Linked DNA regions of Homo sapiens: region 1 is linked to region 2. Evidence: fine-mapped expression QTL. Tissue or cell type: sun-exposed skin. Region 2 holds a variant in brackets; the other region holds the start of a gene. All regions are shown on one strand. Distances are between the middles of the regions.

Region 1 (5,271 bases), 28 kb before region 2:
TCTGCCTCTCAGACTCAAGTAATCCCTCCACCTCAGCCTCTTGAGTAGCTGGGACTACAGGCATGTGCCACCATGCCTGGCTACCGCTTTCCTCTTTTTAATAAGGAAACTAAGTTCCAAGAGGAGAGTAAGGCAACCAGTGTAAAGGGAGGGCTTTCCTCTCCCCCACATGGCCTCTCATAGTTAATAAGCTTACCATTCTGCATTATGTTAGGTTCAGGAAAAATCTTGCTTGGCCCATAAAATAAAACTGGAAACAATTTTTCTAAATATTTACTGTTTTCACAGACACTAGTACATGATATATGGATATTTCCCTCTTTAAGAATTGCAAAAGGATACCGGACATGTATCCTAAAGAAATGAAAAAGTATGTTCTCAGAAAATTCTGTACACAAATGTCGATAGCAGCTTTCTACATATTAGCCCCAAAACTGGAATGTCCAAAACAACCTGAATGTCCTTCAACAAGTGAATGGATAAACAAACTGTGGTACATCCACACCAAGGAACACGACTCAGCAACAAAAATGAACTACTGATACACACAACTTGGATGGATCTCAGAGGCTTTATGATGAGTGAAAAAGAGCCAGTCTCAAACAGTTACATACTGTATTATTCTGTTTATCTAACATTCTCAAAAGAACTAACTTACAGAAATGGAGAGCAGCTTAGCGATTGACAAGGCTGGGGTGGGAAAAGAAGTGACAGCAAAGGGGTAATACTAAGAGTTCCTCTGTGGGGAAGGAACAGTTTTGTATCTTTATGTATACATATGACCAAATGTTACAGAACTCACACACCTGAGTGCAAGTAAGAGCTGATAAAATCCAAGTAAGGTCTCTAGTTCAATTAGCATATTCTGCCAATGACGTTTCCTGGTTTGGCAATGTGCTATCGTTATGTAAAATGGTACCACTGTAAGCAGCTAGGGGAAGGGTACATGGGACCTCTGTACTATTTCTGCAACTTCTGGTGAGCCTACAGTTATTTCAAAACAAAATTTTTAAATGGGGGGGAGAAGCTTCCCAAAGAAGCTCTTATGAATAACTGCTAGAAACAACTATGAATAATTGCTAACATGTACACGATACGTTCTATGTGCCAGTGACAACTTTACATGTGCTATCTCCATTAATCCTCACGACAATCTTAGAAAGCTGATTCCTAAGTTATTGCCCCATTTTATAGTTAGGAAAGTGAGCCCAGAAGGAGCAACCAACTTGCCTAAGGTCACCAGGCAAACAAGAGGAGAACTAGCCTTCTACTCAAGCCTTTCTGATTCTAGACTTTGGAATCTTCACCACCACATCGTGCTGTCTCCAAGACAGACGAATTCCATTCTCAAAAGATTGTCAAGGAGTCGGTAAAGGCAAAAACCTTCTTGTTCCTGCTCTGAGGCTACCACAACCGTACAAAATGTTAGCAGACCTCCCTAGCACCCCAGGCGCTCCCCCAACCCTGGGCTCCACTTGGCCACAGCCGCCATCTGGATACCAAAGGCTCCAGGGGCAGCAGATGCCTAACATCGGATACAGGGCTCCAGGCGCCCCGGGGCATCTGGCGAACAGTTGGTTGGCTAGGCCGGAAAAGGGTGGGTGGCTAGCAGGAGGGCACCAGCCTCCGCAGCGGACTCTGCGGCCATCACTTTCCCATCAGAAATGGGGATATTAGTCTACATCCCTGGGGGCGTGGGAGGCGGGGGTTGTGAGGATGACAGCAGGAAAAATCCTTTGCAAAGAGCAGCGCCAAGCGTTGGTTATCTCAGCGTATTATGTTGTACGTACAGGAAGCATTGAGGAGGGAAGGCAGGCTGGACCTCTCCCCTCGCCCCCGCCCCAGCAAGCGCGGGTCTCCAGGCGCCCCCGCGCGGCCCGCGTGGGATGCGCCCTCGGCCCGGGCGCTGAGTGTTTACCTGGACCTGCAGTTCACGCCCTCGCGCACCGGGGCCAACGTCCCCGGCCGGAGCCGCCGCCTGCGGTCCGCCATGGTGGCCCTAGCTTCGCGGCCACCGTCCGGGCTTGGGCGGTGTGTGTGCCCTGCTGCCGCCCCGTTGCTAGGACACCGCACAACCACCGCTGCCGGTATTTGCCCCGGGCGCCTGGCAACTCTGACGCCCCGCTGCGCGGTCCAACCCCTTCTCCGACGCCTGGGGACGTGGACCTGGCCGAGGGAAGGGAGAGGGTACCGGTCCTTGGTGTAATCACGTTTTACTCTGCTGGGAAGGCGTGTTCATCTTCCCACCGAAACGCGCCATAGACTGGATCAGGCGTTTTTTGCTCATCATCGTTTCAAAAAACGTTTACTGAAGGAAAGAAAGGAAGAAGGCAGGAGGAGCGATAAAGAGATAGCAAGAGAAAGAGGATGGAAAGTGGGGAAAATGAATAGATTTCTAAAGGTTGGGAAAGCCTTTTAGCAGGGAGATGTTTTCCTGGAGGTCTTGGAACTCTCTTGGTCTCACAGCCTCTGTAAACCGAGGGCTGCACACCTGTCTCTAGTCCCCAGCTGATTTCCAGAGGCCCTTCCAGCTCCTGTGTTGATTCTTCTGCCTCGACTCACTTCTAGCAGACAAGTACCATCCAGCTGACCCTGGTAGGCACGTGGCCACATAATACGGATTGCACGAGGGTGTGTTTCGTTTTTACTAAATTCTTATGCTACTTCTGAGTGTTTCTGATTTAAATATAAGCATTGGTTCTGCTACTTAATAATTATGCACTCCTGGGGGCAGGGTACTTACATTTTTAAGCTTCATTAATTACCTGGCCTGAAAATGGGGAAAATAATAGTATCTACCTGTAGGGTTATTGGGGATATTCGATGAATATAAAGAAATTAACACAGTGCCAGCATTTAAGAATCCCTCAAGAATTATTATTATGCAAGTACTATTATTCCAGCTGTGAACCGGGGGTGGTAATATTTGTCCTGACTACTTAACAGAGCTGTTGTGAGTTAGTTAATGGAGAAAGCTATGTAGGTAATCATTATAATTAGCCCAATTGTTATTTTTATTTTCTTTGATATTAGTCCGATTGTAATGCAAACTTTTTATTACTTTGAGGAGGTAGGGTTTCTGTAGAAATTCTGTGAGAACTGGGCCAAAAGTATGGTTATCTAGGCTGAATGGAGTCCTGCAGGAATGATTTGTAACAATTTGCCCAAACAATGCTTGATTAAACTAAAAAGCTTCTACACAGCAAAAGAAATAATCAGCAGAGTAAACAGCCCACAGAGTGGGAAAAATCTTTGCAATCTATATATCCAACAAAGGACTAATATTCAGAATCTACAAGGAACTCAAACAAGCCAGCAAGAAAAAAACAAGCAATCCCATCAACAAATGGGCTAAGGACATGAATAGACAATTCTCAAAAGAAGATATAAAAATGGTGAACAAACATATGAAAAAAGGCTAGATATCACTAATTATAAGGGAAATGCAAATCAAAACCACAATGTAATACCACCTTACTCCAGCAAAACTGGCCATAATCAAAAAATTTAAAAAATTAGATGTTGGTGTGGATGTGGGGAAAAGAGAACACTTTTACGCTGCTGGTGGGAATGTAAACTAGTAAAACCACTATGGAAAACAGTGTGGAGATTCCTTAAAGAACTAAAAGTGGATCTACCATTTCATCCAGCAGTCCCACTACCTGGGTATCTACCCAGAGGAAGAAAAGTCATTATACAAAAAAGATACTTGCACACACATGTTAATAGCAGCACAATTTGCAGTTGCAAAACTATGGAACCAGCCCAAATGCCCATCAATCGATGAGTGGATAGAGAAATTGTGGTATATATGTGTATATATACACATATATATAATGGAATAACATTCAGCCATAAAAAGGAATGAAATAATGGCATTAGTAGCAACTTGGATGGAACTGGAGACCATTATTCTAACTGAAGTAACTAAGGAATGGAAAACCAAACATTGTACATTCTCACTCATAAGTAGGAGCTAAGCTATGGGGATGCAAAGGTGTAAGAATGATAAAATGGACTTTGGGAACTTGGGGGGAAGGATAGGACGGGGACAAGAGATAAAAGACTACACATTGGGTACAGGGTACACTGCTTGGGTGATGGGTGCACCAAAATCTCAGAAATTGCCACTGGAGAACTTACTCATGTAACCAAAAAAAAAATAAATAAATAAACAAATAACGGATGCCCAGAAATATTCTGAAGGAGGCATTTTACCGGAATCTCCAAAGGTTGTGACAAAAAGAAGAAAAAGCTGACTACAATTTATATATCAGCAAGCAAGAGGTAGAGTTTCCTAAGATGGCTTTCTATATATTTTCTACAGCTGCAATAATCCTTTTAAAAATATTTAGCAAAATAATATGTTGGCAAATTATCACTCTTAAATAAACAAACAAATAATAAATAAACAATTTGTCCATATGCCTAGGGTTTCTACCAATTCAGGACTGCTTTCCCATTTCTCACCTTAAAGTTCTATTTTTTTGTTTTGTTTTGTTTTCTTTTTTGAGACAGAGTCTCACTCTGTTGCCCAGGCTGGTGTGCAGTGGTGTGATCTCAGCTCACTGCAACCTCCACCTCCTGGGTTCAAGCGATCCTCCTGCCTCAGCTTCCCGAGTAGCTAGGATTACAGGCACGTACCACCATGCCGGGCTAATTTTTGTATTTTTAATAGAGATGGGAGTTTCACCATGTTTGCTAAGTTCTATTGTTTTTGTTATTCAAATGCTTGTTTTTCTGGAATATATAATAGTGTTTGAAAATACTATTTTATATATTTGAATAATCCTTTTGGGAATGAAATGGCCAGCTTACCTGGCAAAAAGTCTAGAAATAAACACCTGGAAAATCACCAACCTCATTCTTAAATAACATATACTCACTTGATTACTGTATTTAATACATTTCACCTTTGAGTTGAGAGAGAGAGAGAGAGAGACTGAGAGATTCTCTAAGTAATGACTACAATTATGGTATGCAATGTATGGAGTCAAAATTACCATATAGAGCAATTATCAACTTGTGATGATGCAGATGTCATGAAAATAGATGGTTTCTTATTTATTTATTCAGCAAACACTAGCAACAAAGTACCAAGGTGACGAGGATCAGGTCTGTTTTCTTCTCCATTGCATCTCCAGTGCCTAGTATGGTATATAACAAATCAATAGTTGTTGAATGAGTATATAATGTGTGTCAGGCACAGTACTAGGAACAAGATGGACAAGATCCCTACCCTAAGTCTTGGAGAAATCCTACCTACATGCA
Region 2 (5,271 bases):
ATAGCAGCACAATACACAACTGGAAAAATATGGAACCAGCTCAAGTGCCAACGAGTGCGAGTGGATAAAGAAAATGTGGTATATATATTTACTATGGAATACTACTCAGCCATAAAAAGGAGCAAAATAATAGCATTTGCAGCAACCTGGGTGGAGTTGGAGATCATTATTCTAAGTGAAGTAACTCAGGAATAGAAAACCAAACATTGTATCTTCTCACAAGTGGGAGCTAAGCTATGAGGATGCATATAAGATGCTAAGCTATGAGGATGCATTATATCATTCTTATGCCTATAAGAATGATATAATGGACTCTGGGGACTTGGGGGGAAGGGTAGGAGGCGGGTGAGGGATAAAAGACTACACATTGGATACCGTGTTTACTGCTTGGGTGATGTGTGCACCAAAATCTCAGAAATCTCCACTAAAGAACTTTTCCATGCAACCAAACACCACCTGTTCCCCAAAAACTTCTGAAATTAAAAATAAATAAATAAAATAAAATAACAAAAATTAGCTGGGCCTAGTGGCTTGCATCTGTAGTCCCAGTTACTTGGAAGACTGACCTGGGAGAATTGCTTGAGTCTGGGAGGCAGAGGTTGCAGTGAACCAAAATCATGCCACTGCACTCTGCCTGAGTGACAGAGTGAGATCCTGTCTCAATAAAATAAAAAGGATTTTTTAAAAAGTTATAATTGTTTATTCTTTCTCTGCCCTTTTAAGATGTATGAACATCTTCTTAAAAGCTTTAAAAAAGTCTCCTGCCACCTTTACAACACAGGAATGTTTTTCTTAAGGACTTGGGAGTGAACCCTTTGAAGTGTAATCATCAAGAAAGACAGCCCCTCCTCTCTCCATTTCTGTGGGAGGGCAGGAGCCTAACTCTAAGGTGCCTGGCTCTAAGTTGCAAAACTACCTCCTGTCATAAAGATATGAGAAGTTTTATTTTTCCTTCGGATAAAGGCAATTAACACAGATGGCCAGCCCAATTATCCCGTGAATTTCGGATGAACTATGTGTGACAATGGTGCTGTCAAGTCTTCTACCTGAAAACATGTATGTAATGGACTGTATCTGCCTAGATATAGGAAAGGGTAAGATTTCTTTCTGACTTTGCAATCTGCAATCTCTTCAGCAGATTGCCTGTGATGCACGTCACATTCTGGTTTAATACCTATTCAATAATAAATTGTCTTTCCCTTCTGTGTTTGTGGGGAGGTCTCCTGGTTTGGCAGGAGATTTTATTTTTAATTACATTCCCCCAACATCATCAGAACCTGGGAAGACAGCATGACTGTGTCACACATCGCTCAGGGATAGGGTAGCAGCCCAAAGATCAAGCCTGAATGTCCCAAGACATAGTGATCTTCAATAGTCCAGGGAGACTCACTCTGAGGGTGGAAAGCAGGCCAGGGACACTCTCCTTTTAGTGAGGTGGAGAGTGGAGAGTCCAAATACCAGTTTTGAGGTCCCCTGAAGAAGGGTTATGGAAAAGCACACTTGTGACTGGGCCTTGAGGGACTATGGACTAACCTGCTATGCTTCTCACACTTTACTCTACTCATGGGTCATAGGTTGTTCTTGTTCAAATGCAAATTTTGTTTAGTTGGCCCAGACCAGGGCCTGAGAGTCTCTATTTCTAACAAGCTCCTAGGTGGTTCCAATGCAACGTCTTGGGATCACACTTTGAGTAGCAAGGGATTAGAGGAAGAGGGCGGTGATAATAAAGACAACTGTGATAATATTGTGATGCACATCACATTCTGATTCTGATTCTGGATTATACAGGATTCTGCTGTCTTCTCACAGTACCCAGCCAAATTTTGATGAATTCTCAAAGTTAGACTTCTGGCTAAGTAGGACCCAATAAGGGGTGGGCTACTGTACCACTCCCCAGGATGCAGATTACCCAAAACTCACTGGAAATCTACCAAGAAGGAGACAATTCTGTCTCCCAAAGCCTTTCACAGGCCAAGCACTGTATGTGTTTGGAGGGAACACTTGGTTAAGCCACTTGCAGAAATGAGCTGAGGTTAAAATAAAGTACTTCCAAGGAAGGTAGTTTTCATTAACACCTGGAGGACTGTTTTACTGAATGGTGTACAAACATGCCCCCAGAGCTGGATTGACAAGAGG[T/C]TGACATCTGCTACCAGCCCCCACAAAGCCTTACCTTTGATATTGAACAAAAATATGGCTTTGAAGGGGTGTGCAATTATCATTAGTCTGATGCATCCACCTGTCAAGGTCTGATCCTGCCAGAGAATTCTTACACCTACATGGTCGATTCCCATGCACGAGGCTTCACCTGGGCCTCTTCCCCCCCTGCCTTTCTTCTGAGCTTCAGCTTGGAACTCTTGCCTGACCAAGACTTAAACTAGGCGCTCAGCTGGGGCTTACTAGTCCTCCATGGTAGAAATATCCATGACCAGGGTCTTCTTCCCCTACCCAGACCTTTGAAAAATTAATAGATGTGAAGTCCTTAGAACAGAGCTTGGCATATAGCAAGTAATATTTACCTTTTGCTCAGACATAGTAAATAGAGTTTGAGAGAACTTCAACAGTGACAAGCAAAGGATGGGTTTGTGCTGTTGACTCTGAAAGAATGTGAAGGACCAAAACCCTCCTCTGATGATTACCCGGAACTTGAGAGGCTCCTCTAGGACAGGGCTGGTGGAGGCAGCGGAGAGTTAAGGACTAAGGAGAAGATAGGAAAAAGGCCGGGCACGGTGGCTCATGCCTGTAATCCCAGCACTTTGGAAGGCCGAGGCAGGTGGATCACCTGAAGTCAGGAGTTTGAGACTGGCCTGGCCAACATGGTGAAACCCCGTCTGTACTAAAAAATACAAAAATTAGCTGGGCATGGTGGCTCACGCCTATAGTCCCAGCTACTGGGGAGGCCAAGGCACGAGGATTGCTTGAACCCAGAAGGCCAAGGTTGCAGTGAGCTGAGATCACACCACTGCACTCCAGCCTGGGCAACAGAGTGAGACTCGGTCTCAGAAAAAAAAAAAAAAAGAAGATAGGAAATATGATGCCCAGATGTTCATGAATTGGACACTGGAAGGATTGGAGACTGAATTTAAAAGTAGTATTTTGTACCACTGAATATTGAGATTTTTCTTCAGATAAAGGATTGGGCCTGCCCAGCCTCCCTGAAATTCTGTGTAGGCCTCATTCTTAAATGTGCAGTTTCTTTTTGTTGTTTCATATAGAGATATTAGTATACCAGGTGGATCCCTTCATGGTAGTCACCTATTGTTAAAGAGTTTGGGATGAATTCCACAACATCATGTGGCATAGATTAAGGAATACGCATTTTTTTCCTTTGATTTTTATTTTAGGTTCAGGTGGTACATGTGCAAGTTTGTTACACAGGTAAACTGGGTGTCGCTGAGGTTTGGTGTGCGAAGGATCCTGTCACCCAGGTAGTGAGCATGATACCCAATAGGTAGGTTTTCAACCTATACTCCTCACCCACGTCCTCCTTCAAGTAGTCTCCAGTGTCAATTGTTCCCATCTTTGTGTCCGTGTGTGTTTGATGCTTAGCTCTTTAGCTAATAAGTGATAACATGCGGTATTTTTTCTCTGTTTTTGCAGTAGTTCGCTTGAAATAATGGGGAATAGGCCGGGTGCGGTGGCTCATGCCTGTAATCCCAGCACTTTAGAAAGCCAAGGCGGATGGATCACCTGAGGTCAGGAGTTCAAGACCAGCCTGGCCAGTGTGATGAAATCCCGTCTCTGCTAAAAATACAAAAAATTAGGCAGATGTGGTACCAGGTGCCTGTAATCCCAGCTACTCGGGAGGCTGAGGCAGGAGAACCGCTTGAACCCAGGAGGCAGAGGTTGCAGTGAGCTGAGATTGCACCACTGCACTCCATCCTGAGCAACAAGAGCGAAACTTCATCTCCCCCATGCCAAACAAAAGAGGAGTAATGGGGAATAGGCTTTAGTGGGGAAAAGAAAAACTCCCCAGGCCAGGACCAGTGAGGCAGTGGTCGCCCAAGCTTACCATTAGTGAAGCAGGTGAAGGCTGCTGGGCTGTATGATTCGGTTCCAGAGGAGAAAGCCTGTCCCCTTCCCCTGCCACAATGGGTTTTTCTTCCTGTGGGCAGGTATGGGAAAGTGGCCTTGTTCATAAGGGAATATACAGATTGCATGGTGCCAGGCAGTCTGGACTTAGGGAGCTGACTCTTTACAGGAGTTGATTAGGAATCAGTGAGGGACCTTGGGGCCTGTGAGTTGTACAGTTTCCCATGGGGAAATAAAGAGGACCAGGAGGAAGCTGCCATCCCCAGGGGAAGCTGAGTGTGTGTACTGACTCCGCTGAGAGAATGAAGAAACCCCTGTGGTCCCAGCTGATCCCAGGTGAGCACCTGGAAGCATTCTTGTACAATCTTGCTTCTTATGTAACAGAAAATGTACCTATGACTGGTTATCCCTTTTATTTCTCCCTGGGTAAAAAACTGCCAGAACTTTCTAGAATTCTTTTCCCATCACTGATTTTTAAAAAGATCATATTCTAAGAGGGACCATTACTCACATCAGAAATGGCAGATGAGAAAGAAAAGAAAAGAAGTCTGCACTGTAGTAGCATGTATCAGGACTTCATTCTTTCTTTAAGAGACAGGATCTAGCTCTGTCACAGGCTGGAGTACAGTGGCACAATCAGCTCACTGCAGCCTTGAACTCCTGGACTCGAGGAATCCTCCTATCTCACCTCATAAGTAAGCTGGGACTATAGGTGCATGCCACCGTGCCCATCTAATTTTTAATTTTTCTATAGAGATAGGGTCTTGCTATGATGCCCAGGCTAGTCTTGAACTCCTGGTCCCAAGCAATCCTCCTGCCTCAGTCTCCCAAAATACTGGTATTACAGGTATGAGCCACCACACCCAGCCTATTTCTTTCCTTTTTATAGCTGAATAGTATTTTCCACTGTATGTCTATAACATATTTTGTGTATCTATTATTGTCTGATGACATTTGGGTCGGTTCCACCTTTTGACTATTGTGAACAATGCTGCTATGAACACTGGTTTACAAGTATTTGTTTGAGTACCTGTCTTCAATTTTGGGGGTTATATACCTAGGAAGAGAGTTGCTAGGTCATATGATAATTCTGTTTAACTTTTTAAAGAACTGTGATTTGCATCTCTATCTCCTCTGGTTTGATTCAAAATGGAGGAAACAGTTCTGCTTAAGATAGCTTGCAGTGCAATTGAAGCAAACACTACTCATTAATATTCTGAAACGTTTTTCATTGACACTAAA

Evidence for each region. PIP is the estimated chance that this variant, and not a neighbour inherited with it, causes the effect.
Region 1: it holds the start of FAM47E, and the variant in region 2 is fine-mapped to the expression of FAM47E in sun-exposed skin (GTEx, PIP 0.93).

The regions. Positions count from the first base shown.
Region 1 is chr4:76,248,468-76,253,738 of GRCh38, reverse strand. FAM47E (family with sequence similarity 47 member E) reads right to left here and starts at 2,018. Exons shown (of 8, transcript NM_001136570.3): 1 at 1,919-2,018. The coding sequence starts at 1,992. FAM47E-STBD1 (FAM47E-STBD1 readthrough) reads right to left here and starts at 2,018. Exons shown (of 7, transcript NM_001242939.2): 1 at 1,919-2,018. The coding sequence starts at 1,992. LOC105377286 (a long non-coding RNA gene) reads left to right here and starts at 2,062. Exons shown (of 3, transcript XR_938897.4): 1 at 2,062-2,631.
Region 2 is chr4:76,219,972-76,225,242 of GRCh38, reverse strand. It overlaps a transcript of SCARB2 not described here and a transcript of FAM47E not described here. Among named protein-coding and RNA genes, the nearest start is that of SCARB2, 8.8 kb to the right of the region's middle. The variant T/C (reference allele first, on the strand shown) is at 2,137.